7 linked regions of the Homo sapiens genome follow. The protein of the gene in region 5 interacts with the protein of the main gene of each other region in a pairwise test. Each region holds a gene or a part of one and is shown on either strand. Other genes may lie near its edges. The genes, in order: M1AP, COL26A1, MOB3C, TBC1D22B, SIAH1, PTPMT1 and SPATC1L.

Region 1 (5,425 bases), on a different chromosome or scaffold from region 5:
TGAAGCTGACACAGAGAAATTCACACAAACAGGTAGTCAGAGGCCTTATTTAATGTATAATTAAATTTAATTATCCATCTCCATCTCTCACATCTGAAAACGCCATTTTAAAGTAGAGGCAGGACAACCTGCTCAGGTCCCCTTCCACACTGTGGAAGCTTTGTTCTTTCGCTCTTTGCAATAAATCTTGCCGCTGCTCACTTTTTGGGTCCGCACTGCCTTTATGAGCTGTAATACTCACCGTGAAGGTCTGCAGCTTCGCTCCTGAGGCCAGGGAGACCACAAACCCACCGGGAGGAATGAAAAACTCCACACACGCCGCCTTAAGAGCTGTAACACTCACTGCAAAGGTCTGCAGCTTCACTCCTGAAGCCAGCGAGACCATGAATCCACCAGAAGGAAGAAACTCCAGACACATCCGAACATCAGAAGGAACAAACTCCGGACACACCATCTTTAAGAACTGTAACACCGCCAGGGTCCGCGGCTTCATTCTTGAAGTCAGCAAGACCAAGAACCCACCAATTCTGGACACAGTATTGCTGGGCCATAAGGCACGTATGAGTTTAGTTTTGATAGTGAGGTAGGAGGCGGGACTCAACTCTGCAGGAAGGGCTTGGACACCAGACCAAATTGAGGACTAGCTTAAACAGGGCGAGGGTGGAAGCAGCTTTCCATAAGACATGCCCACCAGTGTGCCCTGTCAGTTTACCATTGCCATGGCAACACTCAGAAGTTACCATCCCTTTCTATAGCAACGACTCTATGACCTGGAAGTTACCATGCTTTTCCTAGAAATTTCTGCATCAACTCCCCCTTAATTTGCATGTAATTAAAACTGGGTATAACTATGACTGCTGAACTACCTCTGAGCTGCTATTCTGGGCACACTGCCTATGGGGTAGCCCTGCTCCACAGTTGCAGTACCTCTGCTGCTGCTGTACACTGCTGCTTTAATAAAAGTTGCTGTTTAACATCACCAGCTCACCCTTGAAAAAAATAAAAATAAAAAAATAAAGTAGAGGCAGTCCTCATTTTGCATGGTTCAAGTATATAGATTTCAGTTACTACAGTTTAGTTAATTAACACTAGTCTTCCAACAACACAGTTCAAATTTCAGTTACCATGGAATATTAACTGTAATTACATAAAGTAGTATCTAGCTCTTTAGTTCACGAATTACTAGTTATCAGTATCAATAGTATAGTATACTGATATAGCGTACTGATATAATATAGTGATCAGTGCATCATGATCAGTAATTAATTATATCACTTCTTTCAAAGTCTGTTGGTGACCCGTCACTGCAGATCCATTAGTCAGTTAAAGCACAGACAGAAGTGTGTAGTTGTGTCGCCTCCTTGTCTCCTAGTGATAAGCCCATGTGATGTTTTATAAAAACAAAAACTGAAAGAGGAAACTAGCCGATAAAAGGAGCAGCAAAGAAATAAAAAATGATAATGCCAGGAGTGAAATCTGAATCTAACATAAGTGGAGTTAAAGGAGAAACAGCTGACTATGAGAGTGTTGACACTGCCTCCACCTGATAGACTCTAGAGAAGCAGCCAGAGGAATTTAGTGAAGGCAAACTTATCAACATACTTGAGGAAAGTCATTGTGATGAAAAGGATGAAGACATCCTACAGAAAGGGCCACTGGCAAAAAGCTTCATTATTAAAGAAACTTTCAGAGATATTTTACAAAATTGAAGGTACAAAGGATAAAATGTAGGAAACTAACCCAAACTTAGAAAGAAGTATGTCAGTTTGCCAAGACACACAAAAAATGTTTGCTCTCTCATAAGTTTTACTATGAGAGTTTTTTTTCAACAAATAAAACACTTTAGCTCTCAATGTTTCTAATGTTTTAAGTTAGTGTATGAAATAGTTTTACTGTTTTACATTTCCCTATACAGTTAGTAAGAAAGTTTTAGTGTTTTGACAATTTTTCAAGGTTATAGAACAACTGTAATTTTTCCCATTGGTGTTTAAGATCTCTTTGAATGGTTTCAGCTTGCAGTCATTTTTCAATCCCACACTAATGTGCAATTGGAAGACTGTATTTTAAATGAGGTAAGAGGCAGCTCTCTTCCTTACATCCTCAAACATCATCAATTCATGCATCTGATGTGTCTGGGCATAGTACTAAACAGGCTCTGACCTTATTCTGACCCTATACTCTCCACTTTTGCCAAGAACACTCGCTTAATGAATTCTCCCTGCAAACTGGTTAAAACTGGAACTGGGCCTTGAACCACTCCAAACCACCAAGTTATGCCCAAACTAAAAACCCTCCAAGGACTTCCAATTACACCACTGGAAACAGAATCCAATATCTTTACCCTGGCCCTAAAGTTCTGCTTGTGCCTTCTGCCCAACTCTCCATCCTCACACTAGGCCCTCCCCTGCCCGCACCCCGGGAGATCCACCTCTCACAGATCGGCTTCTCGCTGTGTCTGCCTCTGCGGATGTTCTGTTCCGTGCTGAGCATTCTAGGTTAGGGCCCCTTTACAAGCCCTCATTCACTTTGTCGCGTGATAAACGATTCAATGGTTCTCCCTCTGGCAGGGCCCTATTAAAGATTTCGTGGGCCCTAAGGCACTTTCGTCTTCGTGGACCCCTTCCTCCATTAAAAAAAGATTAAAAGAAGTTAATGGATTTTGTAGGCCCTAAAAATCTCATTTCCCCCTCCTGATGTGAGAAAAAAATCAAAACACTTTCTTTGACTTCATGGGTTCACTTTAAACGAAATGAAAACATTCTCGTGGCCGGGCACGGTGGCTCACGCCTGTAATCGCAGCACTTTAGGAGGCCGAGGCGGGCGGATCACGAGGTCAGGAGTTCGAGAGCAGCCTGGCCAACATAGGGAAACCATGTCTCTACTAAAAATATAAAAAAATTAGCCAGGCGTGGTGGCGGGAGCCTGTAATTCCAGCTTACTCGAGAAGCTGAGGCGGAGAATCACTTGAACCCGGGAGGCGGAGGTTGCAGTGAGCCGAGATCACGCCATTGCACTCCAGCTTGGGCAACAAGGGTGAAACTCCGTCTCAAAAACAAAGCAAAACCAGAAGAAAAAAAATTCTCGTGGCTCCCTGAAGCCTCCGTGGTCCCTCGGCATGGCGCCTACCGTGCCTGGCGGATCAGCAGCCCGGCCCTCGGGCCTGGGGGCCCCGCGGAGGAAGCTCCGGGCCCAGACTCCGCGCAGGCCTGGCCGCCCAGAACAGTATGCGGAGGGATGACTCCGACAGCGATTTCGGAGCCTCTCTCGGCGTCAGTCTTGCGCCGGCACCCGCCACGGCCAGCGCAACCAACACCTGCCTGAGGACTGGCCCGAGCTCGGCCCACGCCCAGCCCAGCCTGCGAAGTGGTGCCGGCTGCTCTCGGGCTGCCCTCCCTCCCCGAGGCGTGGAGAACCGTACCTGTCTTCGGAAGACGGAGGCCCCCTCACCTGGTCCTCCCGGCTCTCAGCGTGCGCCCGCGCGTTCGGAGGCGCCCCCCTCAGGCCGGCGCGGCTGGGCGGGAGGCTCACTGCGGGCAAGGCGGGGCCTGGCTGCCTCAGGGTGCGCTTCAGGTGGCGCTTCAGGAAAACGGTCTCCAAGTCCCTAGATACCCTGAGAACAGTCCTTCTTTGTCCCTTAGGTAGAATTTTGTCTATTTGTTGGAAATGCTGTGCTAAACCTGACATTTTTCTTTTTCTACCCCTTCCCATGAAACATGCCAGTAGCTCCCCCACCGACCGTTTTCTTGGTTTTAACTTTTCCCTTCCACATCATTTCCTTCAGCCAGTCGCTATTTTGTTCACTAAACATCTGTGGTGGGCACGTTATGTGCCACGCATTGTGCTAGGATTGGAGTACAGTGGATGTACAGACAATGGTCACTGCCCTCATGGAAGTTATAGCTGCCTTCACAAAGTTCTTTTAAGTCTTTTCAAACTCCTGTATTCCAAGAGGGTCTGTCGCTCTCTTCATACTCATTCTCGCTTACTTGAGGTTGATTCCCATAGTCCCTTTGACGAACTCCAGATGGGGTAGGAGCGTCCTGGTCCTTAACAGTTGGTTGGTCTGGGTCTTCAACTCTGGTTAAAAAGGAATTCTCTGAATTAGTCCACAGGAGAGGGAAAGATAATGCTAGTTCCAAGCTAGAAATGTACAAGCAGTTTTCCTTGTTTTCTTTATTATTATTATTGTTATTTTCTCAGTTCATTGTCTAGATGCAGGTTGGAGGTGGGGTGGGGCAATATTTCAATGAGTGGCACAGGATAGGTTAGATGTTTCAACAGGAAAAGAGTTGCCTGCTTGTATTCTAGTCCCACTAAACCATTTTGCTCCTATCAACTGTTCCTCAGGTAAGAACAGAACTATTTAACCTATGTCCTTTTTTAAACACTATAATCTGATATTCAATAGAGTTCCTGTGTTTCAGTTTAAAGGGTAGCTTCTCAACAGCTCTTTCCCCCCATATAGTCCAAATTAGCCTTTCTGTCTCTAATCTCCAGATTATCGTTTCCACTGATGTTAGAATTGTCCTTGTAAAAATATTTTGATCATATCATTCTTTGTCTTAAAAATGGCTTATGTTTCCTTTTCGGTTAGAGGGTCCATTATAACTGACCCCACCTACCTTACTAGGCTCAACCCCAGCATTACCTGTCTTACTCCCCTTTGTGTTGCTATACCAGAATACCACAGAACAACTAACTTGTAAATAAAGGAAATGTATTCTTAAATTCTGGAGGGTAGGAATTCCAAGGTTGAGAATCCCACATCTAGTGAGGGCATTTTTTCTGTGTCATCCCATGGCAGAAGGCAGAAGGGCAAGGGGTACAAAAGAGCAAGACAGCAATAGGGAGCTGAACTCACTTTTACAACAAACCCACTCTCTCAATAACTAACTCATTTCCAAGATAATGACATTAATTCATTTATGGGGGCAGAGCCCTTATGGCCTAATCACCTCTTGTTAGGCCCCACCTCTGAACACTATTCCATTGGGTACTAAGTTTCCAGCAAATGAACTTTGGGGGACGCATTCAAACTTGAGCACTAGCCTCACTCCAAACCATACCACCCATTGCTCCTACCTACTATTAATTTCTTTCCGTACCCTCTATAGCATTTATTAAAAATATGCAAAGAACTGTACCAGAAATGGGGACTATGACATAAGAATTGTTTTCTGAGGGTGATAAACTATAATGGTCATGAGAAAGCACCTTGCAGACTTTAAACTACAAGGAGTGTAACTGACCAAGGGCATCAGCTGCTGCCTTAGAAATCTACTGCCACGACTGGGCTCCGTGGTTCACGCCTGTAATCCCAGCACTTTGGGAGGCCGAGGCGGGTGGATCACCTGAGGTCAGGAGTTCGAGACCAGCCTGACCAACATGGAGAAACCCCATCTCTACTAAAAATCCAAAATTAGCC
Region 2 (3,478 bases), on a different chromosome or scaffold from region 5:
AAGTCTCACGAGATCTGATGGTTTTATAAGGGGAAACCCCTTTTGCTTGGTTCTCATTCTCTCTCTTGCCTGCTGCCATGCAAGACGTGCCTTTCCCCTTCCACCATGATTGTGAAGCCTCCCCAGCCACATGGAACTGTAAGTCCATTAAACATCTTTTTCTTTATAAATTACCATAAATTACCCAGTCTCGGGTATATCTTTATTGGCAGAGTGAGAACAGACATAATACACAGGGCAAGAGCTTAATACCTACAAGGGTCACAGGGTGATTCAGCAGTGGTTTGGGTCTCTGTGTTGTACCTGGGACTTGTCATCAGGGTATATGGGTCTCCCTGGGGTCTCTGATATGTCACTGACCCCAGACCTGGACAGGAGCATGGAGCAGGATCAGGGTTGCTCCTCCAAGAGCCCTGAGGCCGCCCCAACTTAACTCACCTTCTTGCAGAGCTGGGGGCCAGGCCCAGTTTATAGACAGTGTGGTTGGGTGGAGGGGTGAGGTGGCCTCTGAAGGGGCTTCCCTCACCCTCTGGAGGTAAGAAACAGATCTTGACTCTGGAGGTAGGGCTCAGACACAGGACCAAATTGAGGACTAGCCAAAACAGGGACAGAGCGGAAGCATCTTTCCATTGGACACGCCCACCAGTGTGCCATGTCAGTTTGCCATCACCATGGCAACACTCAGGAGCCACTGCCCTTTTCCATGGCAAAGACCTGATGACCCGGAAATAACCACCCTTTCCCTAGAAATTTCTGCATAAACCAGCCCTTAATCTGCATGCAATTAAAAGTAGGTATAAATATGGTGCAGAACTGCCCTGAGCTGCTATTCTCTGCCTGGGGAGAAGCCCTGCTCTGCACGAGCAGTCATGGAGCTGTAGTCCTGCCCCTCCAATAAAGCTGTTTCTCTTGCCTCCAGCTTGCCCTTGAATTCTTTGCTGGGTGAAGCCAAGAGCCCTTGCAGGTTAAGCCCCAATCCGGGGCTTGCCTATCGTGTGTCACTCCCAGCCCCCTCCCTGGAGGTCCTGAGGGCAGAGCTGGACCTCCCTGCCACAGAGGCCCTGTGGTCACCCCGGGCCTGGCTGGAGCTGCTCACAGCTTCCCTGGCACCTGGCCGGTAAGATGCAGACCAGCCTCCTGCAGAGCTGTCACCACACAAACAGACCCACAGTGGGGAGAGCACCTTTATTGTCACATATAATAATAACGCTACAGGCTGGTGGTCCCGCCCGCCTCTGACCACCCCTCCATGAAGACAGAGACTGCCTCTCCAGACCTGCCTCAAGGGCCAGAAGAAGATCCCAGGGCCCAGAGGGACCAGGCCACAGCCAAACAGGAGTACCAAGAGCACTGGAGACAGTCACTCCTGCTGTGAAGACAGAGTGCCCCAGGGTGGCGCCAGCACCTTCAATTCTCTGAGTTTGCTGCCGTGGCTGTGTCCCAGGTCCCAGCCCAGCAAGAGAGGAACACCAGGGCTGAGCTGATCACGGAGACCCTGGCCCCAGAGGCCTTGAGGGCTCCAGTCAGAGCTGTTCTGGGCTGCTAGGGACCTGGTGCCTGCCATGGAGCCTGCCAGGCCCCCAACTCTGGAAGGTGGGAGGCAGGAGCATCTCTTCCCAGCAGGCCTGGGACTCTGTTTCCCTCTCTGCAGCTTGCAAAGGGGACACTGGGCTTGCTGTGTCATGCAAAAGTAGCAAACCTATAGAGTCCACTGAGAGACAAACTCGTGGGGCAGAGGCTGCAAGTCCCACCTCTGATAGACATGCCCATGAAATGCTGCCTCCCCTGGCTCAGGGATGGGATGGACCCAGAGAGAGCGGGTGGGCTCAGCAAGACTGGGAGGCAGTGGCCAGGGATGCCTATCTGGTTTGGTGGACACTTGCACCCCCAATGCTTCTCTCTCAAGGTCCTCAAGTCCGTATGGCTGGCAGTGATTTATTCAGGGTCTCCCTGGCCTCTGAGAGCTGCAGTCCAGGCTGCTCCCCCAGCCAGTGGGGAAGGGGGATGAGGAAGGGAAGCCCCAGGCCCTGCAGGACCCTGCCTACCCCCTCAGGCTGGCTGGCCCAGCCTCCCCGCAGCCCTGCCTGCCTTAAGGAGCCGTTCTGGCCCTGCGCCCTCCCTGTCTGAGTTTTCTCTCGAAGAGGGGAAGCTGGCAGGGTCGAGAGAACATGGCTTCAGGAACTGAGGGTCCTGGGTTCAAATCCTGCCCCTGCCACCCGTGATCTGGTGGCCAAGAGAGGGTTATTTCTACCGTCTGAGCCTCGGTCCCCTTGTGAAGTGGGGATAATAAGCTTACCTCCTAAGGGTTAAATAATGAGACAACGTAACGAAAGTTCCCTGGACAGGGCCAGTTACAGCAGGGACTCAATAAATGATGGGTATTAGGATTATTCTCATTCCCAGCACCCAGCCCACCCAGACCCCGTCTCCAGCCGGGAGTGGGGGTAGGGGAGGGGACAGGCCAGAGGAGGGCTCTGATGAGGGTGTTGGCCCCTCCAGACCCTGCCCCTGGAGACATTATCTGTCCCCAAAGCCCCCCATGTCCTCACAATCATCCATGCCTGGAGCCCAGTTCCCCTGGGGGCATCTTTAGGAAACAGCGGCGGCTCAGGCCTCTGGGGCTGGGTCTCTAGCCAGGACAGGGTGTCCTGGAGCAGTGGGCTCTCACTTCCTGCTGCTGGCCTGGTCCACGCTCTTCTGTCCAGGGTCGGGCCCAAGCAGGGCAGCAAGGACCCCATCGGGTTGGGCGCCACCCCTCTTCATCTTGAGGTTGGCTCTCAGGGCAGCATCCTGGCCAGAACCTCCCTCTGGGGAGGCCAGGGGATCTGGAAGGAGAGCAGGAGGGTGGACTCGAGGTAGAGCCTTAGGAACACTTGGGGGTACATTTGATCATGATATGTGGCCACGGAGAGATGCTCTTGCCCAGCGTGGAGAAGCAAGGCAGCAGCAGGCTTTCAGCCCCTTATGCATTCATTCATTCATGGATCCATGCATCCATCCATTCATTCACTCATTCACCCATCCACCTGTCCATTGACCCATTCATCCATCTGTGTATCCACCCATTCATCCATTCACCCATTCATCCACCCACTCAGTCACTCATTTATCTATGCATCTATCCATTCATTCACTCATTTACCTGCCCGTCCATCCATCCATCCATCCATCCATCCATCCATCCATCCATCCATCCATCCACCCATCCATCCACTCACTTATCCACCCACCCACCTATCCACTCATTGATTCATCTATGCATCTATCCATCCATCCATCCATCCATCCATCCATCCATCCACTCAGTCATTCATTTATCTATGCATCTATCCATTCATTCACTCATTTACCCATCCATCTATCATCCATCCATCCATCCATTCACTCACTTATTCACCCACCTACCTGTCCACTCACCCGCCCATCCACCCATTCATTCATTCATCCATGCATCTATTCACTCATTTACCCACCCACC
Region 3 (4,449 bases), on a different chromosome or scaffold from region 5:
AAGTAAATTTGCCTGAGCTCTAGATGGGCCCTCCTGGGTGCATCTGACTATACTCTTCTACCTCCCAGTGCCAGGCACATAGTAGTTGCTAGAGGAATGTCTACTGAGTGTCAGGTGCAACGGGAGGAGCCAGTGGCTTGTTCAGATTTGGGGCTGGAGGAGGCTGGCTTGAGGGGAAGGATCTCCAGCTGTTGTCAGAGGAAGCGACGCCCTCATTGGCCTGCCGCCCTCCCCCTCCTCCAGTGCTTGCAGCCACACTCAGAAGCCGCCCAGCTGGCAGCGGGAGGGCCCTTTCCTCTTTCAGGGTGAAAAAAAAGGAAAGGACATTTTTGGTAGAAAAGTTCCCTGCTGCTCCCTGGGAATCCCCGGTGGCCGGATGGACTACGGGATATCCCAGAGGAAGCCGAAAGCCACCCCCGACCCCCCTCCACCCTGCCCCCAGCACAATGCTGCGAGGCTCTCCCACGTTGCACCAGCTGGCCAAGGGGGCTCCCAGAGGTCATCTCGTCCAAGCCCCTGTCTGCTGGTGGGCCTGCAGGGAGCCTCTGCGACCTCTCTCGTGACCAACAGCAAGTCTGAGGGGCACCTGTTTAGAGCCCAGGCCCAGCTCTGCAATGAAAGCAGAAAAGAGACAAAGCAAGATGGGAGGACTGTGGGGGCTTAGCAAGGGGGACTAACATAGCCTGGAAAGAGGGCGGGGCACTGGACCTAGGGGCTGAGGACTTAGATTCCAGGCAGAGGATGCAGAGGTTGAGCAAAGGCTGAGAGGTGACAGGGAAATGATGAATTGGGAAGTCAGAGCCCAGATGATAAGGCCTTGACCGCCAGCTCCCCTATGCCCTTGTCCCTGGCAGGGTATCCTCAGGTCCGAGCCCCTGGACAGCAGCCCCAGGCCCAGCTGGCCATGGCCCTGTGCCTGAAGCAGGTGTTCGCCAAGGACAAGACGTTCCGGCCGCGGAAGCGCTTTGAGCCGGGCACACAGCGCTTTGAGCTGTACAAGAAGGCACAGGCCTCTCTCAAGTCGGGCCTGGACCTGCGCAGTGTGGTGAGGCTACCACCCGGGGAGAACATCGACGACTGGATCGCCGTGCACGTGGTGGACTTCTTCAACCGCATCAACCTCATCTACGGCACTATGGCGGAGCGCTGCAGTGAGACCAGCTGCCCGGTCATGGCCGGCGGGCCCCGCTACGAGTACCGCTGGCAGGACGAGCGCCAGTACCGGCGGCCCGCCAAGCTCTCTGCGCCGCGCTATATGGCATTGCTCATGGACTGGATCGAAGGCCTCATCAACGACGAAGAGGTCTTTCCCACGCGTGTTGGTGAGTGTCACCTGGCGGGGAGGGAGCCACTGGGAGCCCATTCCACAGATGAGGATTTAGTTTGATATAGACACTCTGCAGGGTTGGGGGTTGATTTTCATCCCCATTTTGTGGAAGAGGAAAGCGAGGTTGAAACAGGTTAAGTGCCTTGCTCAAGGTCAAGCATTTGCTAGGACTTCCTGACTCCCAATTTGGGGCTTTTCTTTCTTTTCTTTTTCTTTCTTTCTTTCTTTTTTTTTTTTTTTCTTTTCTGAGACAGAGTTTCGGTCTTTCACCCAGTGGTGAGATCTCAGCTTACTGCAACCTCTGCCCCCCGGGTTCAAGCGATTCTCCTGCCTCAGCCTTCTGAGTAGCTGGGATTATAGGCACCCACCACCACGCCTGGCTAATTTTTGTATTTTTAGTAGAGACAGGGTTTCACCACATTGGCCAGGCTGATCTCGAACACCTGACCTCAGGTGATCCACCCACCTCAGAGGGCTTTTCTTTTCTAAAGCATAAGTGGTCCCACCAAGGACCACTCTGGCAAGACCACAGATGCTGTGATTCTCAGAACCTTCCAGAACAGTTGCCCCGAGGTGTTCATAGCTGATTTGACCTCCAGCCTCCCGGGGTTCCCTCTGACTCCTGGCCTCAGGAAAAGGAGGGAGTTGGTGGTTGGGTGGGCCCTGGTGGTATCATCACCTCAGATTGGGGCTCTGAGGACAGAATTTTCCCTTGCCAGGCACAGGCTGTGGGGCCTTTTCTTATCTCAGCTGGGCAGCCTGGGCGGGTGAGGGTAGGGAGGGGAGATGAGTGATGTCACCCAGGCACTGCTTACCCACCCGAGGGCAGCAGGAGGGGGTTGTTGGTCCAGGAGCTGAGCAGGCATGACACTGTGTTCATCACACCAGCCGCACCTGTAGCTGGGCCCAGCCCCCACCTGGCCTGGAGCTCATCTCTGCAGAGGCTGTGTGGATCAGCGGTGGGTGGGGCAGGGTGGTCAAGCCCTGAGGGGAGAAGTCTGAATGCTGAAGGAAGCTGGGCACTGAGTCACAATTCAATGCCCACGGCTCCTCCCCAGCCAGTGGCCTGCTGTTTCTTGCACTGTCATGCCCGACAAGGAGCACCTTCATTTTACATAGGAGGAAACTTGAGGCTACTGAGGGAAAGTGCACTGAACTGGGAGGAATTCCGAACTGGGGCTCAGATCTGTGGGAGCCCAGGACCCCAAGTCTACATGGGCAGGATATGTCTGAGGAATCTGGGCTGGGCTGGAGGGGCTCAGAGGGAGGGAAGGCTCGACCCCACCTGGGAATGGTGAGGAAGAGGAGGGGGTCTACAGAGCCGGGTGGGCCAGCTGTGGACCTGAATGTAGATTCATAGTCCCTGCTGGCCATACCTCCCTGGGCCTGTGGGACTCCAGGTATCGATGCCTAAAACCCTGGGTGACTGCCACACAGAGAAGAGGGCATAAGCCACCAAGATCTCTGCCTTGAGCATGGGGGACTATGCAGAAGCGGGGCCTTTTTCATGGGTCCCAATATCTGTGAGGGTCGCTGCAGTGCACTGCAAAGAGGGTCTGAATCCAGTCTCCATTCTGCACTGATTAATACTTATGTGGCCTTGGGCTAGCAGCTTCACCTTTATAAGCACTTCTGTTTTATCATATCTAAAGTGACAATCAGACACATCAGGCGAATTGTTCTAAGGATTAGAGGCAAAAGGTGTGAAGGGCCCAGCACAAGGCCTTGCTCATAAATGGAAGGTTCTTCGTGTTGTTGAATATTTGAAGGAATGAGGGCTGTCTGAACTAACTCTTGCAGAATTCATAATTTCCAGGATTGGGGGTCTGAGGACTTCTGTGTGAATGTTGAAAAGAGGAGGGACATGGGGTGGGGCTAGAGAGGGAGGTCAGGATAAGATCATGAAAGGCCTTGAGCAGCGTCCTGCTGGAAAGTTAGGACTTAATCCTGAAGGCCCAGGGATTTTTTAAATGGACCCAGTTGTTGAACTCTCCTTGGAGTTGTATACAAGAGTGTGATGTGAGCATCTCTGCAATTGCACATATTTCTGGGGAGAGTTTAGGTCGTAACTTTTATCATAGTCTAAAAAGGGTTGGTCAGTGACCCCCACAAGTTTGCAAAGCCCTGCTTTAGGTAATGGGAAAATGTGGAAGATGATGTATATTCCAGCAGGGGAGAGCCACAGTCAGATTTGTGCTTCATTAGAAAGAAAAGTATGGCCAGGCACAGTGGCTCATGCCTGTAATCCCAGCATTTAGGAGGACGAGGCAGGTGGATCACCTGAGGTCAGGAGTTCAAGACCAGCCTGACCAACATGGAGAAACCCTGTCTCTACTAAAAATACAAAATTAGCTGGGCATGATGGCACATGTCTGTAATCCCAGCTACTTGGGAGGCTGAGGCAGGAGAATACCTTGAACCTGGGAGGTGGAGGTTGCAGTGAGCCGAGATCATGCCATTGCACTTGCCTGGGCAAGAGTGAAACTCCGTCTCAAAAAGGAAAGAAAAAAAGAAAGGAAGAAAGAAAGAAAAGTATGGGAGAAAGTCAAACCACTCTCTGTTTTCCAAAGGGAAGTGTACTAAAAAGTGTGCTGGGGAAAAAGCCATCCTGGTTGCCTGTGTGTGGGAGGGAAAAGTTGAGCAGAGCTTTGGCACCAGGATACTGATCCCCTTCTGCCCTCCCCTGCCCTCTAGGAGTTCCCTTCCCTAAGAACTTCCAGCAGGTCTGCACCAAGATCCTGACCCGCCTCTTCCGAGTCTTTGTCCATGTCTACATCCACCACTTCGATAGCATCCTCAGCATGGGGGCAGAGGCGCACGTCAACACCTGCTACAAGCACTTCTACTACTTCATCCGCGAGTTCAGTCTGGTGGACCAGCGGGAGCTGGAGCCACTGGTGAGGCCAAGCCCTACCACCCTCCCCTACCAAGGCTAGCCTCTGAGTTTTCACGTCCAAAAGCTGCCTGCTTTAAGTAACTCCAACGCCCAAGTAGATGAATTAGGGGAAGGCAATTCATTTAACAGTGAATTCTGTACTTCAATAGAGAATTCATTCAAGTGTTGGTTTACAAACCCAGATCTGCAGCCTAAGAGTTGGGGTTGCTGGGGGAAGGCCAGGCTC
Region 4 (4,653 bases), on a different chromosome or scaffold from region 5:
CATGGAAGCTAGCTGTTCAGAATCAGGAGACCTGTGATCATCCTCTCTAGTCAGGGTGGAACAACACAGACACACTCACATGGTACAAGTGAAGTGGTCAAAGAGATGGAAACTGAAGAGCACCAAGCCTGGTAATCAGGGGAGACCATGGGATGTTCGCTATAGAAAAAGTCTGGGATAATCCTGCCTTATAGAGAGGAGTGGATAGGAGAACCGCTGGAGGTCTTCCAATGTCTCTTCTACTAGTGTGGGTAATTCTTACATACTATAGGCAATTATCAAGTATCTTTCAGGTTTTCAAAGCAAGCCTTTCCGTATTCAGTGTTACTTAGTTCTTTGCTTCTTGGTTGGCATTTTTACCAGCCTGGATGGTGGCTCACGCCTTGTAATTCCAGCATTTTGAGAGGCAGAAGCAGAAAGAATTGCTTGAGGCCAGGGGTTCGAGACCAGTCCTGGGCAACAAAGCAAGACCCCATCTCTACAAAAAATTATGAGAAAAAAAATTAGCCAGGTGTGGTGGTGCATGATTGCAGCCCCAGCTACTTGGGAGGCTGAGGCAGGAGGACTGCTTGAGCCCGGGGAGTAGAGGTTGCAGTGAGCTATGATCATGCCACTGCACTCTAGCCTGGGTGACAGAGTGAGACCCTGTCTCTTAAAAAGTTAAAATAAAAAAAATTTAAAAGATGACTGTAGCCTGCTAGATGAAATGGTCATTCAGGAAAAATTGGGGAGAATAAAGTTTGAGTTCCCATATTGTATTCAGGATGCACTACTAAAAGAAGCCACCACCCCCCAACCTCTTTTTTTTTTTTTTTTTGAGACAGGATCTTGCTCTGTCACCCAGGCTGGAGTGCAGTAGCACGATCATGGCTCATTGCAGCTTTGACCACCTGGGCTCAAGAGATCCTCCCTCCTCAGCCTCCCAAGTAGCACAGGCACAGTAGCACAGGCACACACCACCATGCCTGGCTAATTCTGTAATTTTTTTGAGACAGGGTCTTGCTATGTTACCCAGACTGGTCTCAAACTCCTAGGCTCAGGCTGGTCTCAAACTCGTGGGCTCAAGCAATCCCTCTGGCCTTGGCCTCCCAAAGTGCTGGGATTATAGGAGTGAGTCATCACGCCTGGCTGAGAAGCCTTTTAAACTGACTACTTTCCTCATCTCCAAATTCAGAGTAAGCATGCACAGGTAAAAGAAAAGTCTCTGAACATCTCCAAGTTAAAATGAGGAATAAGCAGTGCTGAGCCATGGAAAACTGTATGGGAGGATAAAGGGATCATGAATGGGTTTTTAGCTTCCTGTGAGCTGAATCTTATAGTTAAAATAATGATGTTACCTTCAAAATCTTCTTTATGCTATGGGTAAGACATGAGGGACCCCACCAGTGGAGACATCTATATTTAAACAAAATTATAAATATAACCCAAAGTCAAATAGAAATTATTTTCAGCATTTTAACCACCATCCCTCTCTACTATGAGAACTGAAAGTTCCGTTAAAAGAGCACTAGTACTTAGTGTCCTGGCTACTGTAAAGTTGCAAAGGAAATCCCTAATCTTAAGAAGTTTACAGTTACTGCTTGAGTCAAAACATAATAGCCCCACTGACACCTTCCATGTACTTCATTAACTTGTTAGGTCTCAAAATATAACTACTACTCCCACTTCTAAATATATACCCAAAAGAATTTAAAACAGAGACTCAAACAGATATTCACATACCCATACTAGCAGCAGCATTACTCACAATAGCCAAAAGGTGAAAGCAACCCATGTGTCCACTGATAGATGAACAGCTCAACAATATGTGTTACATATGTACAACGGAATATTACTCAGCCTTAAAAAAGGAAATTCACACATGCAACAACAGGGATGAACCTTAAAGATATTATGCTAAGTGAAATAAGCCAGTCACAGAAGGACAAATATTGTATGATTCCACTTATTTGAGCTGCCTGGAGTAGTCAAATTCTTAGAGACAAATAGAATGGAGGCTGCAGAAGAGAGTTAATATTTAATGGATACAGAGTTCCAGTTTGGGAAGATGAAAAATGTTCTGGAAGTGGATGGTGATGATGGTCATACAATAACGTGACTGTACTTAATGCCACTGAACTGTACACTAAAAAATGGTTAACACAGTAAATTTTATATTATGTATATTTTACCACAATTTAAAAAATCACTACTTCCAGCTTGATAAAGTAGAGCAAATACAGGAATAGGAATTCTAAGATGTGGGTTCTTCATTCTGCCACCAGGTAGCCTCAAAATTCTGAGCAAGTTCCTTAGCCTTTCAAAGTGTTATTCCGCTCACAGATTTGTAACAAAGATCAAATGAAAATGTATGAAACCATGCTCTGAAGGAACCAAAGCTGCATATATGAACATAAGGTACTATTATGATTAGCCGCAAACCTGTAAACAGGTGCCACAGAACTATGCGGGGAGAAGCGCCAAAGAACATTAAGTAATTCCCTCACCTCCTGTACAAGTGGTTGCTGGAACAACGGAATGAGAGGATTCGTCCTTGGAATGTCAATGTGAATCTGAAAAAGAGAAGGCATGTCCAAAAACACAAATGCCAGTTTTTTTTTGTTTTTGTTTTTTTGAGATGAAGTCTCGCTCTTGTCCCCCAGGCTGGAGTGCAATGGCACTATCTCAGCTCACTGCAACCTCTGCCTCCAGGGTTCAAGCGATTCTCCTGCCTCAGCCTCCCAAGTAGCTGGGATTACAGGCACCTGCCACCAGGCCTGGCTAATTTTTGCATTTTTAGTAGAGACGGGGTTTCACCATGTTGACCAGGCTGATCTCGAACTCTTGACCTCAGGTGACCCACCCGCCTTGGCCTGCCAAAGTGCTGGGATTGCAGGTGTGAGCCACCGTGCCTGGCCCAGTTTGTTCTTTTGACAATTTTTTTTTAAAGAAATGGGAATCATCTGGCTGGGTGCGGTGGCTCACGCCTGTAATCCCAGCACTTTGGGAGGCCAAGCCGGGCGGATCATGAGGTCAGGAGATCGAGACCATCCTGGCTAACACGGTGAAACCCTGTCTCTACTAAAAATACAAAAAATTAGCCGGGCGTGGTGGCGGGTGCCTGTAGTCCCAGCTACTCGGGAGGCCGAGGCAGGAGAATGGTGTGAACCCGGGAGGTGGAGCTTGCAGTGAGCCGAGATCGGGCCACTGCACTCCAGCCTGGGCGACAGAGCAAGACTCTGTCTCAAAAAAAAAAAAGAAATGGAAATCAAAGTAGTAAGAAAACACAATTTATCTTCAGAAAGAAGTGACTGACACAGGAAAAAAATCTAGTTATACCTACCTGCCCATGTGGAACATGTTTCCATGACAACAATAGCTTATTAAACAGTGAGGAAACCTCCCAAAAGAAACCACTAAAGTCAAATGGCAATAGGCTTCACAGATTAAGGGTTTTTTCTTATTGCTCTGAAGTCTGTTTCACTCTGGGCTGGCATGTATGTAGCAGGTATGATCCAAGTAGGTACCCATCTTTCAGAATCTTACTCATCAACAGTTCCTAAGAACTAGAAGAGCTCAGAAAGCTGCAAAAATGTCCTAAAATAGGGAACCAGAGATGAACTTGCTTATGAAGTCATGATGTGTAAGAAGCGGGGAAGGGCCAGGGCGATGGCTCACGCCTGTGATCCCAGCACTTTGGGAGGCTGAGGCGGGTGGATCACTTGAGGTCAGGAGTTTGAGACCAGCCTGGCCAACATGGTGAAACCCCGTCTCCACTAAAATTACAAAAATTACATGGTGGCTCATACCTGTAATCCCAGCACTTTGGGAGGCCAAGGTGGGTGGATCACCTGAGGCCAGGAGTTCAAGACCAGCCTGGCCAACATGGCGAAACCCCATCTCTACTAAAATTACAAAAATTAGCTGGGTGTGGTGGTGTGCGCCTGTAATCCCAGCTATCCAGGAGGGTGAGGCAGGAGAATCGCTGGAACCCAGCGGACAAAGGCTGGAGCAAGCCGAGATTGCGCCACTGCACTCCAGCCTAAGTGACAGAAAAAGACTCGGTCTCAAAAAAGATAAAGAAAAAATTAGCCGGGCCTGGTGGCACATGCCTGTAATCCCAGCTACTCAGGAAGCCGAGGCAGGAGAATCACCTGAATCCAGGAGGTGGGGGCTGCAGTGAGCCAAGATCACGCCACTGCACTCCAGCCTGGACGACAGAGTGAGACTCCATCTCAAAAAAAAAAAAAAAAAAAAAAAAAAAGTGGGGAAGGACCAAAAGGAGTTGGCCTTCAGTAACTGAAGCTGAAAGTTCTTACTTCTGTTACCTAAGACATCACTATAGTCCATTTCAACTCAGGGATTTCCCAGTGCCCAGTCTAACTATGCAAAAGACTGTGTCAGCAGCAGCAGCAGCAGAGGCTACTTCAGTTCTTGAGGCTTGTTGTAAATAGCTGCCCACCTTCCACTTTCTGCAACCCCTGGCCTACTCTTCTCCTCCCTCCACATGTGATGTTGGGAGCAGACCTTTCCGCAGACCATGAGGACCATTATGGGCAATGACAGAAGACTCCCTGACAAGACTACTGAAAGCTACAGCTCCTACAGTCACAGATGCCAAAACAGCAGTGCAGCTGCCAGGAAGACATACTGATGTCATAGTCCAGAGGGACT
Region 5 (4,653 bases):
ATGCATTTTACATCTGTTAAATATTAATCTATTCCCTCTAAGCTTCGGGAAGTTCTTACGAAATTGCTGTAGAGAAATATTCTTTCTTAATATCTGTAATTAAAAAGCATGATTAGGTTAAATTGGAGTTATGAAGGAATTATCTAGCTATGTCAGTAATGACATAAAATAACAAATAGGATTTTCAGTGAGTATGGTGTTTTGAAAACAGATCTTACATAACTAGGGTAACAAAGTTTAGTAATTTACAGAGTTTTAGGTGACTGCTTAAATTGTATTTTTAAGCAGTTGATTTACAAAATTTTTAAAGATTGGAGGTTCTTTGTTTAAAGAGATTTATTAACAGAATTTTGTGGAATTTCCATATTCGCTTTGTGAAATGTTAAAATCTAGATATTTTTTGTACAGCCCTCTCTTTCAACAAAATCTGTATGAAATCCCCAGAACCTTCCATCCCCCCGCCAAAAAAGGAAATTTTCCTTTTTACAATAAGTATCCTTAATAGTATTCTTCAAAATAGCAGGATGTCTAATGCACTTTAAATGATTTAGTTCCCATGGCTATAGTTACTAGAATATCTGCTGCATAAGGGCAAGAATTGTGTTTTTAATATATATCCTCAGTACCTAGTGCTCAGTAGGTATTTGTTTACTCACCTACTACTGTGCGTATTCTAATGACATTCAGATCTTTATTTTTATTTTTATTTTTTTTTGAGATAGTCTTGCTATGTTGCCCAGGCTGGAGTGCAGTGGTGATGTCATAGCTTATTGTGGCCTCCAACTGGGCTCAAAGGTTCCCCCCACCTTAGCCTCATAAGTGGCTGGGACTAGGAGCATGTGCCATCACACTGGGCTAATTTTTTAAAAAGTTATTTTGTAGAGACCAGGTCAGGTCTCGCCATCTTGCCTAGGCTGGTCACAAACTCCTGGGCTCAAGTAATCCGCCCACCTCGGACTCCCAAAGTGCTGAGATTACAGGTGTGAGCTGCTGTGCCTGGCCTCCAATCTTTTTGCCTGCTGAGATGTAGACCCATATATCCCCTTATGCAGATTTTTTTAATTGACTTTATTTTTTAGAGCAGCATTAGGTTCATAGCAACTTGAGTAGAAGAGACAAGAGATTTCGCGTGTAGCCCCTGCCCCTACACGTGTAACCTCCTCCATTATCAACATTCCCCGCCAAAGTGGTACGTTTGTTACAATTGAGGAACCTACATTGACACACCATTATTACCCAAAGATTATAGTGGCGTACATTTTATGGGTTTAGACAAATACATAATGACATACATGAATGCTTTCACCACCCTAGAAATCCTCTGACTTCCACCTATTTGTCCCCACACCCCCAACCACTTATCTTCTTTCTTTTATTGTCACCATAGTTTTGCCTTTTCCAGAATGTCATATGTGTAACTGGGCTTTTAAAATATGTAGCCTTTTCACATTGGCTTCTTTCACTTAGTAATATGCATTTAGGTTTCCTCCACGTCTTTATGGCTTGGTAATTCATTTCTTTAGGGCTGCATAATAATCTGTTGTCTAGATGTACCACAGTTGGTTTATCCATTCACCTACTGAAGGATGTCTTGGTTGGCTTCGAAGTCTTGGCAATTCTGAATAAAGCTGCTGTAAACGTCCATTTGCAGGTTTTTGTGTGGCCATGAGTTTGTAACTCCTTTGGGTAAATGCCAAGGAATGTGATTGCTGGATCAGATAGTAAGAGTTTAGTTGTTTTGCTGCTGTTTTTTTGAGACAGTCTCACTCTGTGCCCTGGGGTGGAGTACAGTGGCACAATCTCAGCTCACTGCAACTTCCACCTCCTGGGTTCAAGTGATTCTCGTGCCTCAGTCTCCTGAGTAGCTGGGATTACAGGCGCCTGCCATGACGCCCAGCTAATTTTTGGATTTTTAGTAGAGGCAGGGTTTCAACATGTCGGCCAGGCTGGTCTTGATCTCCTGACCTCAGGTGATCTGCCTGTCTTAGCCTCCCAAAGTGAAGAGTATCTTTAGTTTTGTAAGAAATTGCCAAACTGTCTTCCAGATTGGCTGTACCATTTTGCATTCCTACAAGCAATGAATGAGCGTTCCTGTTGCTCTGTATCCTCGGCCGGATTTGGAGCTACCACTGTTCTGGATTTTAGCCGTTCTTTTTTTTTTTTTTTTTGAGACGGAGTCTCACTCTGTCGCCCAGGCTGGAGTGCAATGGCGTGATCTCGGCTCATTGCAACCTCCACATCCCAGGTTCAAGTGATTTCTCCTGCCTCAGCCTCCTGAGTAGCTGGGATTAGAGGCATACACCACCACGCCCGGCTAATTTTTCTTTTTACTTTTAGTAGAGACGGGGTTTTGCCATGCTGGCCAGGTCAGTCTCGAACTCCTGACCTCAAGTGATTCGCCCACCTCGGCCTCCCAAAGTGGTGGGATTACAGGCGTGGGCCACTGCGCCTGGCCTGTAGTGGTATCTTACTGTTTTAAATTTGCATTTCCGTGATGACATGTGATGTGGAGCATCATTTCATATGCTAGTTGTTATCTGTATATCTCTTTGGTGGGGAGTTAGTTAAGGTCTTTTTGACTCTTTTTTTTAGGTTGGGTTGTTTTGTTATTGGTGAGTTTTTGTTTTTTTTTTGTTTGTTTTTTTGGAGACAGAGTCTTACTCTTGTCCAGACTGGAGTGCGGTGGCGCCAACTCAGCTAACTGCAACCTCCGCCTCCCAGGCTCAAGCAGTTGTTCTCGTGCTCAGCCTGCTGAGTAGCTCCTGAGTAGCTGAGATTAGAGGAACGAGCCCACCGTGCTCGGCTAATTTTTGTATATTTAGTAGAGACGGGGTTTCGCCATGTTGGCCAGCCTGGTGAACTCCTGGCCTCAAGTGATCTGCCTGCCTCAGCCTCCCAAAGTGCTGGGATTACAGGCGTGAGCCACCGTGTTCGGCCAGGTTTGCATATTTTGGATAACAGTTCTTTTTTAGATACGTCTTTTGCAGATATTTTTTCTGTTCTCTATCTCAAAGCTGGCATTGCCTCTCTTCTTCACATTTACATTCATTTCCTTCTACCTTTAAGAGATCTCCTTTTGGTCTCCAGCCTTACAGTCAGTTTTCCTACTGCAGTTTAAGTGAGCTTTCTAATAGGTGAACCTGACTTAAAAGGCTTTCAGTGTAAAGTTCTAAGTTCTTGATATGGTTCGTAAGTACATAGCCTCTCCTGAGCTGGCCTCTCTTGTTACTCCCCTGCCATTTTGGACTTTACTTGCAAGCCCCTCTCATCCTATTAAGCTCTCTTATCTCAGCCTGGACATCACTAGCTGAGAAGCTCTTTGTGAACTCTGCACATTGAATTGGATGTCATCTCTGTGTTCCCATAGCACTCTGCTCGGTCCCACTGTAACATATCCTCCTGAATTATAATTTTTCTTTAGTTGTATGCCTCCCCAGATAGACTGTAATCTCTATGACGACTTGGTCATCCTTGTGTCTCAAGAGTTTAGGACTCTTTCTGGAACATAGGTGGTGCTCAGTAAAAAGTTATTGAGCGACTGACTCCACACTGTCCTTATTAAACTCTTCTAGCCTTTTCGTTGTGTTTTGTTTTTACCAAGGCATAGTGTTTCTTACAAACTTCTCTAGCCTTATTGCCTGTGTTTCCCCTTTGCCCTACCTAGGCCAACTGGGTTCTTTTGTTCCTTGAACACTGCTTTAGCATCTCTGTGCCTTTGGTCATGATTGTATTTAGCCTCTGAAATGTCTATTTGTGCTACTTTGGGTAGATTACTGAACCTCTCTAAGCCTTAGTTCTATTAGTACATGAACAGTTATTAAGTATATTGCTGTTCCCTGCCTTCCCCTCGCCCCCCCAGCCCCCATGTCCTAATGCTAGAGTGTCAGTATAATTAAGTGGCTAAGAGGACAAGCCCTTAAGAGTCAGATCTGGATGTGTCTCTTGGCTCTATCACTTATTAGTTGTGTTTGTGACTTTAAGTTCCATGAGAGCAGAGACACTGCCTACTTTGCATCTAAAAGCACATTGCCTAACACAGCAAGTGTTGTAAAAAGATTAGTTGTTGAGTAAGTTACTTCTCTAAATATTACCACTTACCTTCTAGTGAGGAAAGAAAGAAACAGAATTACAAATTGTGAAGTGTACTGTAAAGGAGTCAAAGTGCTGAAGAGACCAGTGGGGTGGAAGGGAGACCTGGTGTCCAAGGATAAGGAGCTCGCCCTTTGAAGGGGGAAGGAGTACATCTTAGATGGAAGATGCAGCCAGATAAAGGCCCCATGAAGTAGGGATGAATTTGGACTGCTCTAGGACCTGAGGAGTGTTGCTGGAGCAAATGGGTAGTAGAGAGAGACAGGTTGAAGAACTGTGCAGAGGGAAAGAGAGGAGAGATGCTGTGAAGTGTTAGCTGATATTAGCATCTGGCTGTTGTTCAAGGAGATTCTAGGAGAATACCTAGAGCAATATTAGGACTTTTATTTTCTAAATGTAAACTATTTTGTTGACATTTAGCCTAAATACATATGGAAAAAGTGCTCAAATCATGTGTACAGCTTGACATTTTCACAAAAGGAACGCTATTGTAACCACCTCCCAGATCGAAGAAACAAGGAGCCGCCCCCTTCACAGGAAACCACCTCTTGACTTTTTACACCA
Region 6 (3,834 bases), on a different chromosome or scaffold from region 5:
TAAATCTTTTCCTTTCTAGCCACACAACAGTGTTATTTCAAGAAAACAAAACAAGTCAGAGAAAGAAAAATTACCTATTACCTATTGGCACATTTCTGTTACGTCAAGTCTGGGCTTAAGCCCTGTTGGTCCTGTTAAGCTCTTTTTGTTCTGTATCAAGCAGGAGTGTCTTGAGTTCTTTCTAATCCCCATACATCATGTCTTTGAAATGACAAAAGTCCCATCCTTTGTTGCCCGTGCAGTAATCTGCTTGTGGAACTCTTTAAGAACATCCAGCTGGCCAGGCCTGATGTGGATGTATGACCGGATCTTGGCGATGGCTCTTACAGCCTCCTCTGGACTCCATTTGTGCACCTGAAGTACAGGGTTGGGAAATCAGCAGAGAAAGAAAGAAGCAGGTGTCAAGGTGCCCTTGACCCATGAGCAGGTGCTAAAGGACTCTGAGATTTCATTTCTTTGGAAACTCTATTTTGCAGGCATTAAAAATCATGCTGCTTGTATTATAAATGGGAGAGTACTGTAACCACTGCAGTCAGCCAGTCTCACAATACTATGCAACAGGTCAGGTGGAAAGTCAGTCTTTCTACCCAATTCTTGCTCTGCCAAATCCTAGAAAAAGGAAGTTGCACATGGGAAGCTGAGATCCTAAGTTCAAGACTGCCTCAGCCTACTCCACGTCCTCTCCGAGCTGGGCTTTTGGTTACAAGAATTTCTAGGAACGAGTATGCAATAGATGTTTTTATGCAACTTGTCACCATGGCTAGAAAAACAAGTAACTCATAATTTAAATAGGAGGGTTAACATGTCCTAAGGATACTCATTGGTTTAGAACTCAACAGAACCAAGAAAATACAGATTTCTAACTTGCTAGTTCAATTCTCACTTGGTGCAAAATACCCTCCTGAGACCCTGCTTCCAGCAGAGCCCTTATGACCAAAATTTTAATATTACTCAACTATATACACACTAGTCCACAGTAACACAAGGCCAGACTTAGCTATTCACATGACTTAGAAAATGCTCTGTGGGAGCCAGACATTTTGTAACTTAGGTTACAAAATGATGATGGACTACAGGGTATTTGTTTCTCCTAAATATTTTTAAAGCATCCCACCTGCCAATTATGACACATTAATAGGCAGAATCCAGTTTGGAGCCTGTTTCCAGAAACTAATATCCAGAACTTTACTCTGGAATACTTGAAGAAACTTGAGTACTATAAAGCTGAAAATGATCAGCACTATTATCTATGATATTGTTTCCTGACATGGTATTAGAACAAGTGTCTAGCCTTTTGCTGGGGTTGAATGGCTTTTGCAACTCCGTTTTTAGAGTGCCCGCTATAGGCCAGCACTTGATGTAATTTCTTATTTAAACTTCATAATACATTTAGTTTGAGAAAACATGTTGCATAAGGCAGAAGTCACTTTTGCTGATCCTCACTGGCAGGCAGCAGAGCCCCAGGTTACCCTGTCACAAGGCTCAGGTGCTTTCCATCATACCAAACCACCTCCCAACAGCCTGAAATCAAGCACACAGCTCCTTCCAACAAGGCCCACCAGTAGACCATGCTATTGAAGTTCTGGAAATCTGCTATAAATGGGACCAGAAAGACTTTTTTTTTTTTTTTTTTTTTTTGAGACAGTTTCACTCTGTTGGCTATGCTGCAGTGCAGTGGCACAAATCACGGCTCACTGCAGCCTCTACCTACTGGGCTCCGGTGATCCATCTCAGCCTCCCAAGTAGCTGGGACTACAGGTGCACACCACCACACTGAGCTAACTTGTTGTATTTTTTGTAGAGACGGTTTTGCCATGTTGCCCAGGCTGGTCTCAAACTCCTGGGCTCAAGCCATCCTCCCATCTCAAGCCTCCCAAAGTGCTGGGATCATAAGTGTGTACCACGATGCCCAGCCCAGAAAGAACTTTGGTACCTGAATCAGGTATGCTGCCACCATAGTGGCACTCCTGGAGCGCCCAGCCTTACAATGCACGTAAACACACTGGCCCAGCGACTGGTACTTGAGAGCAAATTGGACTCCCTTCTGGAGGTTGTCCAAGGTGGGGATCCCAGTCATGTCTACTGTGCTGAGCCGCAGCTGCTCGACTCCTAGTCTCTTCCACTCCTGGAACCAGGTCCACCAGTATGAAAAAGAGAATGAAAAAAAACTATGTGGGTGGGATGATAAGGGGCTCCCAAGAAGCAGCAAAGCAACAAGGAAGTTTCAGGGTTTACTACAATGGGAATACACTGTTGCCTGTTTTCTAAAATAGAAACTTCTTACAGAAATGCTTTTTTTTCCCATTCCAGGTGAGGACAGAAATGTCTTTAAAATGGCTGGCCTACATGGTTGGTTTTTCATCAAGCAACAGCTATGCTGCTGAGTTAGAATTATGTCCAAGATTTAAAGTGTTCCTTTTTTTTTTTTTTTTTTTTTTAAAGACAGAGTCTCGCTCTGTTGCCCAGGCTGTAGTACAGTGGCGTGATCTCAGCTCACCACAACCTCCACCTCCCAGTTTCAAGCGATTCTCCTGCCTCAGCCTCCCGAGTAGCTGGGACTACAGGCACGCGCCACCAAGCCTGGCTAATTTTTGCATTTTTAGTAGAGACGGGGTTTCATCATGTTGGCCAGGCTGGTCTCGAACTCCTGACCTCAGGTCATCCGCCTGCCTCAGCCTCCCAAAGTGCTGGGATTACAGGTGTGAGCCACCACACCAGCAGGTAAAGTGTTCTTAAACTACCCTTTGGGTACTTGAATATTTAGCTGCAAGATATTAGCTATATACATTTTAGCTGCAAAAAATTCAGCTGCAAACGTCTTAACATTTTATTTTGGCCGGGCATGGTGGCTCACGCCTGTAATCCCAACAGTTTGCAAGGCCAAGGCGGGCAGATCACCTAAGGTCAGGAGTTTGAGACCAGCCTGGCTAACATGGGGAAACCCTGTCTCTACTAAAAATACAAAAATTAGCCATGCGTGGTGGTGGATGCCTGTGATCCCAGCTACTAGGGAGGCTGAGGCAGGAGAATTGTTTAACCCTGGAGGGAGAGGTTGCAGTGAGCAGAGATCGCACCATTGTACTCCAGCCTGGGAGACAAGAGCAAAACAACATCTCAAAAATATATATATATTTTATTTTAGAGACACGATCTTGCTATGTCACCCAGGTCAGAGAGCAGTGGTATGCAATCATGGCTCCTTGCAGCCTCAAACTCCTAAGCTCAAGCAGTCCTCCCACCTCAGCCTCCCAAGTAGCTGTGACTACAGCTGCATGCCACTGTGCCTGGCTAATTTTGTTATTTTTGTGTGTGTGCAGATGGGGGTCTCGCTATGTTGCCCAGGCTGGTCTCAATCTCCTAGCCTCAAGCCATCCTCCTGTCTCAGCCTCCCAAAATGCTGGGATTACAGGCATGAGCCACCAGGCCCAGCCAGTGTAATTTTTTTGCATAATTTTGGCACCTGTGTAGTGATTCAGCTGCAGATTTGGGGTACAATATTTTGCCAAGGCTTTCTATTTCTCTGTCCATAAGTCTCTTTTTTACCACTGTTTTTTGAGGGAACATATGGTAGAAAATAGGGTTATCATTTTAAAATTAAAACAATGGGCCGGGCATGGTGGCTCATGCCTGTAATCCCAGCACTTTGGGAGGCCAAGGCGGGCGGATCACGAGGTCAGGAGATTTAGACCATCCTGGCTAACACGGTGAAACCCCGTCTCTACTAAAAATACAAAAAAATTAGCCGGGCATGGTGGCAGGCGCCTGTAGTCCCAGCTACTTGGGAGGCTGAGGCAGGAGAATGGCATGAACCCAGGAGGCGGAGCTTGCAGTGAG
Region 7 (4,553 bases), on a different chromosome or scaffold from region 5:
GGTTGGCTTTTCATTTTTTTGATACTGTCCTTTGAAGCACAAAAGTTTGTTTTTTTGTTTTGTTTTACTTTTGATGAAGTCCAATTTGTCTGTTTCTCTCTTTTGCTCATGCTTTTGATGTGATCTCTAAGAATCCATTGCCAAATCCAAGGTCACGAAGATTTACCCCTATGTCTTTTCTACAAGTTTTCTGGCCTCAGCTCTTTGAGACCTCTTAGGTCTTTGATCCATTTTGAGTTAATTTGTGTATGTGGTGTGGAGTAAGGCCCAGCCTCATTCCTTGGCATGTGGATACCTCTTTGTTCCAGCACCACGCGTTAGACAGTATTCAGTCCCTCCTGAATTGTCTTGGCACTCTTGTTGAAAACCATCTATGTACAGTTTTATTTCTGACCTTCCCATTCCATTGCATTGATCTGTATGTCCATCGTTATGGCAGTACCACAGTCTTGTTAACTGTAAGTTTTATAGTCAATTTTGAAACTGGGAAGTATGAGTCCCTCAATGTTCTCCTTTTTCAAGATCGTTTTACTTATTCTGGTTCCTTACACTTCTATATGAATTTCAGTTTCTGCTTGTCAATTTCTGTAAAGAAGCCACTAGGATTCTGATTGGGATTGCATGAATCTGCAGATCCAATGTAATCCATATCAAAATTATTGATTTTTGAACAATATAAAGTCTTCTAATCTGTGAACACAAGGTGTTTTTCTGTTTATTTATTTATTGTTTGTTTGTTTGTTTTTTTGAAGAAAGGGTCTCGCTCTGTCACCCAAGCTGGAGTGCAGTGGCACGATCTCAGCTCACTGCAACCTCTACCTTCTGGGCTTGAGTGATCCTCCCACCTCAGCCTCCTGAATAGCTGGAACTACAGGCATGCACCACCACGACCAGCTAACTTGGGTGGTGGGGGGTTGGTAGAGATGGGGTTTCGCCCTGTTGCTGAGGCTGGTCTTGAACTCCTGGGCTCAAGAGATCTGCCCATCTCAGCCTTCCAAAATGTTGGGATTACAGGTGTGAGCCACTGTGCCTGGTCATTTATGTCTTCTTTCATTCCTTTCAGTGATGTTTGTAGTTTTCAGTGTATTTCTTTCCCAATCACTTTTCAAGACTGCAGAAGAGGTATGTCAACACACTGCACAGAAGTGTGTTAGGGCCAATGAGGGGTGTGGAAGAGCAGGTGTAATCTCCTCCTTCTGTATCAATGTATTTCTCTCATCAAGAATCAAGCTCTTGGCCAGGTGCGGTGGCTCATGCCTGTAATCCCAGCACTTTGGGAAGCCGAGGTGGGTGGATCACAAGGTCAGGAGTTCGAGACCAGCTTGGCAAACATGGTGAAACCCCATCTCTACTAAAAATACAAAAATTAGCCAGGCATGGTGGCGGGTGCCTGTAATCCCAGCTACTGAGGAGGCTGAGGCAGGAGAATGGCTTGAACCCGGGAGGTGGATGTTGCAGTGAGCCGAGATCGCACCACTGCACTCCAGCCTGGGCGACAGAGCGAGACTCCATCTCAAGAAAAAAAAAAAAAAAAAGAATCAAGCTCTTTCTCCCATCCCCCCACCAAGGCAAAAATGAGGTAGAAGAAACATCCTATAGAAGAGAAATGATTCTAGTATAGGTTCTAGAAATGATTTCTAGTCCAACCTGGGCTCTGTAAGATCCAGCCAAAAACCTGTTCTTCAAAGGAAAAAGGCCATACATTGATAAACCTCTAGCCAGACTTAGGGGAAAAAAGAAAGAAGACAAAAATTACCACTAGCAGAAATTAGAGATGCCACTACCACAGATTCTACAGACATAAAAAGGATAATAAGGAAGTATTAGGAATGACTTTATGCCAATAAATTTGACAACCTAGATGAAATTGACCAATTCCTTAAAAGACACAAACTACCAAAGTTCACTCAAGAAGAAATAGATACTCTGAATAGCCTTATATCTGATAACCTTACAGGTCACATTTGACAGTTTAAAAGTAAACAGACTTCCAAACTGGCCTGCTTGGGAAGGTCTTATGATTAATGGTCCCTGAGTAAAGAATCTTATCATGATTTCCTCAGATTGCTGATGTGCTGATTAATGGACTGAAAAGATGCTGATTTATTCCTGAATCATAAAGGTTTACTGACTGTCTTGCACAGAGATGTGTTGACCTGTATGTTGTCATCTGTAGCCAATGCTTGTAACCTCTGTGTTGTACCCTCCAAAGAAAAGGACAACATGAGTATGAGGAGTCCTTTCTCTCCTCCTAGCCTCTCCTGTAGAAGCCTTCTGACTTAGATATGAGTATGAGTCCTTTCCCTCCTCTTAGCCTCTCCTATAGAAACCTTCTGACTAGAAAAGGACAACATGAGTATGAGGAGTCCTTTCCCTCCTCCTAGCCTCTCCTATAGAAGCCTTCTGACTTAGACATGAGTATGAGGAGTCCTTTCCCTCCTCCTAGCCTCTCCTATAGAAACCTTCTGACTTAGATTCCAGAACACTCTCAACTTTGTTGGTGTGTTCCTCTGGGTTGATCCTCACATTTGGCTTCCAATAAACCTTTATCGAATTATTTGTCTCAACAGCCTTAATTTCAGTTGACATTATCAATAAAATGGAATTTGTAGGGGGAAAATGTTCCCACAGAGACCATTCAAGGCTCGGGTAGTTTCAGCGGTGAATTCTACCACTTAAGGAATAAATAACACCAATTCAACACAAACTCTTCTAGATAAAGAGGAGGGAAGACCACAAAACAATGAGAAAACAAATAACAAAATGGCAGGAGTAAATCTTTATCAATAATAACTTTGAATGTAAATAGGCAGGTGCAGTAGCTCATGCCTGTAATCCCAGTACTTTGGGAGGCTGAGGTGGGCGGATCACTTGAGGTCAGGAGTTTGAGACCAGCCTGGTCAATGTGGCAAAACCCCATCTCTACTAAAAATACAAAGATTAGCTGGGCGTGGTGGCACGCACCTATAATCCCAGCTACTCGGGTGGCTGAGGCATGAGAATCACTTGAACCCAGGAGGCGGAGGTTGCAGTGAGCCAAGATTGCACCACTGCACTCCAGCCTGGGCATCAAAGTGAGACCCTGTCTCCAAAAAAAAAAATTACAGCACAGTCAAATCGATGAATGATAGTATGTGAGTTTGGTCAAAAACAACCAAGAAACTTTGAATGTAAATAGACTAAACTCTCCAATCAAAAGACGGAGTGGCTGAATGGATAAAAAAAAAACAAGACCCAACCATCTGCTGCCTACAAGAAACACACGTCGCCTATAAAGACTCACACAGACTGAAAATAAAGGGATAGAAAAGGATATTCCATGCAAATGAGAACCAAAAAAGAGCAGTAGCAGCCATAGTTATATCAAAGTGGATTTCAAGACAAAAACTATAACAAGAGACAAAGAAGGTCATTATATAATGATAAAGGGGTCAATTCAGCAAGAGGATATAACAGTTATAAATATATATGCACCCAACACTGGAGCACCCAGATATGTAAAGCAAATATTACTAGAGCTAAATCGAGAGACAGACCCCAGTACAATAGTAACTGGAGACTTCAATACGCATTTTCACCCTTGGACAGATCTTTAAGACAGAAAATCAAAGAAATATCAGACTTAATCTATACTATAGACCAAATGAACATGATAGATATTTACAGAACATTTCATCCAACAGGTGCAGAATACACCTGCTTCTCATTAGCACATGGATCATTCTCAAGGATAGACCATATGCTAGGCTGCAAAACAAGTCTTTAAAAATCAAAAAAATTGAAATTATATCAAGTATCTTCTCCGACCATAATGGAATAAAATGAAATCAATAACAAAAGGAATTTTGGAAATTATACCAACACATAGAAATTAAACAATACGCTCCTGGATGGCCAGTGCATCAGTGAAGAAATTAAGAAGGAAATTTTAAAAATGTCTTGAAACAAATGATAATGGAAACACAACACACCAAAACCTACTATGTACTAGATTCAGCAAAAGCCATACTAAGAGCTATAGCTGTAAGTGCTAAGAGTTTATAGTTATGAGTGCCTATATCAAAAAAGTAGAAAAACTTCAAATAAGCTAATGATTCATCTTACAGAGCTAGAAATGCAAGAGCAAACCAAATCCAAAATTAGAAGAAAAATAATTAAGATCAGAGAAGAAATAAATGAAATTTAAATGAAGAAAACAATACAACAGATCAATGTAACAAAAAATCGGTTATTTGAAAAGATAAATAAAATTGACAGGCCAGGCATGGTGGCTCATGCCTGTAATCCCAGCATTTTGGGAGGCCGAGGCAGGCGAATTGCTTCAGCCCGGGAGGTCAAGACCAGCCTGGGCATCGTAGCAAAATCCCATCTCTACAATAACAAAAACACAAAAACCAAAAAATTAGCCAGGCCTGGTGGCATACACCTGTAGTCCCAGATACCTGGGAGGCTGAGGTGGGAGGCTGGCCTGAGCCTCAGGTGGATATCTACATGCAAACCTCACACCATATATGAAAATTAACTTGGAATTGATCAGAGACCTACATGTAAAA

The links.
Region 1: the proteins of SIAH1 (region 5) and M1AP interact in binary tests that used the Homo sapiens proteins (3 or more experiments, as listed by UniProt).
Region 2: the proteins of SIAH1 (region 5) and COL26A1 interact in binary tests that used the Homo sapiens proteins (3 or more experiments, as listed by UniProt).
Region 3: the proteins of SIAH1 (region 5) and MOB3C interact in binary tests that used the Homo sapiens proteins (3 or more experiments, as listed by UniProt).
Region 4: the proteins of SIAH1 (region 5) and TBC1D22B interact in binary tests that used the Homo sapiens proteins (3 or more experiments, as listed by UniProt).
Region 6: the proteins of SIAH1 (region 5) and PTPMT1 interact in binary tests that used the Homo sapiens proteins (3 or more experiments, as listed by UniProt).
Region 7: the proteins of SIAH1 (region 5) and SPATC1L interact in binary tests that used the Homo sapiens proteins (3 or more experiments, as listed by UniProt).

What each region holds. Positions count from the first base shown.
Region 1 is NC_000002.12:74,644,847-74,650,271, forward strand, and holds the start of M1AP (meiosis 1 arrest protein), read right to left. Parts: upstream 3,485-5,425; 5' UTR 3,419-3,484; exon of another isoform or gene 2,491-3,418; coding exon of another isoform or gene 2,429-2,490; intron 263-2,428; exon of another isoform or gene 242-262; intron 1-241. UniProt on the Homo sapiens protein: Required for meiosis I progression during spermatogenesis.
Region 2 is NC_000007.14:101,556,717-101,560,194, reverse strand, and holds the end of COL26A1 (collagen alpha-1(XXVI) chain isoform 1 precursor), read right to left. Parts: intron 2,826-3,478; coding exon 2,665-2,825; 3' UTR 1,171-2,664; downstream 1-1,170.
Region 3 is NC_000001.11:46,609,777-46,614,225, reverse strand, and holds part of MOB3C (MOB kinase activator 3C), read left to right. Parts: intron 1-854; 5' UTR 855-904; coding exon 905-1,322; intron 1,323-4,021; coding exon 4,022-4,224; intron 4,225-4,449. UniProt on the Homo sapiens protein: May regulate the activity of kinases.
Region 4 is NC_000006.12:37,284,906-37,289,558, reverse strand, and holds part of TBC1D22B (TBC1 domain family member 22B), read right to left. Parts: intron 2,553-4,653; coding exon 2,487-2,552; intron 1-2,486. UniProt on the Homo sapiens protein: May act as a GTPase-activating protein for Rab family protein(s).
Region 5 is NC_000016.10:48,378,444-48,383,096, reverse strand, and holds part of SIAH1 (E3 ubiquitin-protein ligase SIAH1), read left to right. Parts: intron 1-4,653. UniProt on the Homo sapiens protein: E3 ubiquitin-protein ligase that mediates ubiquitination and subsequent proteasomal degradation of target proteins.
Region 6 is NC_000011.10:47,567,991-47,571,824, reverse strand, and holds part of PTPMT1 (phosphatidylglycerophosphatase and protein-tyrosine phosphatase 1), read right to left. Parts: intron 2,126-3,834; coding exon 1,934-2,125; intron 355-1,933; coding exon 196-354; 3' UTR 1-195. UniProt on the Homo sapiens protein: Lipid phosphatase which dephosphorylates phosphatidylglycerophosphate (PGP) to phosphatidylglycerol (PG).
Region 7 is NC_000021.9:46,163,277-46,167,829, forward strand, and holds part of SPATC1L (speriolin-like protein), read right to left. Parts: intron 1-4,553.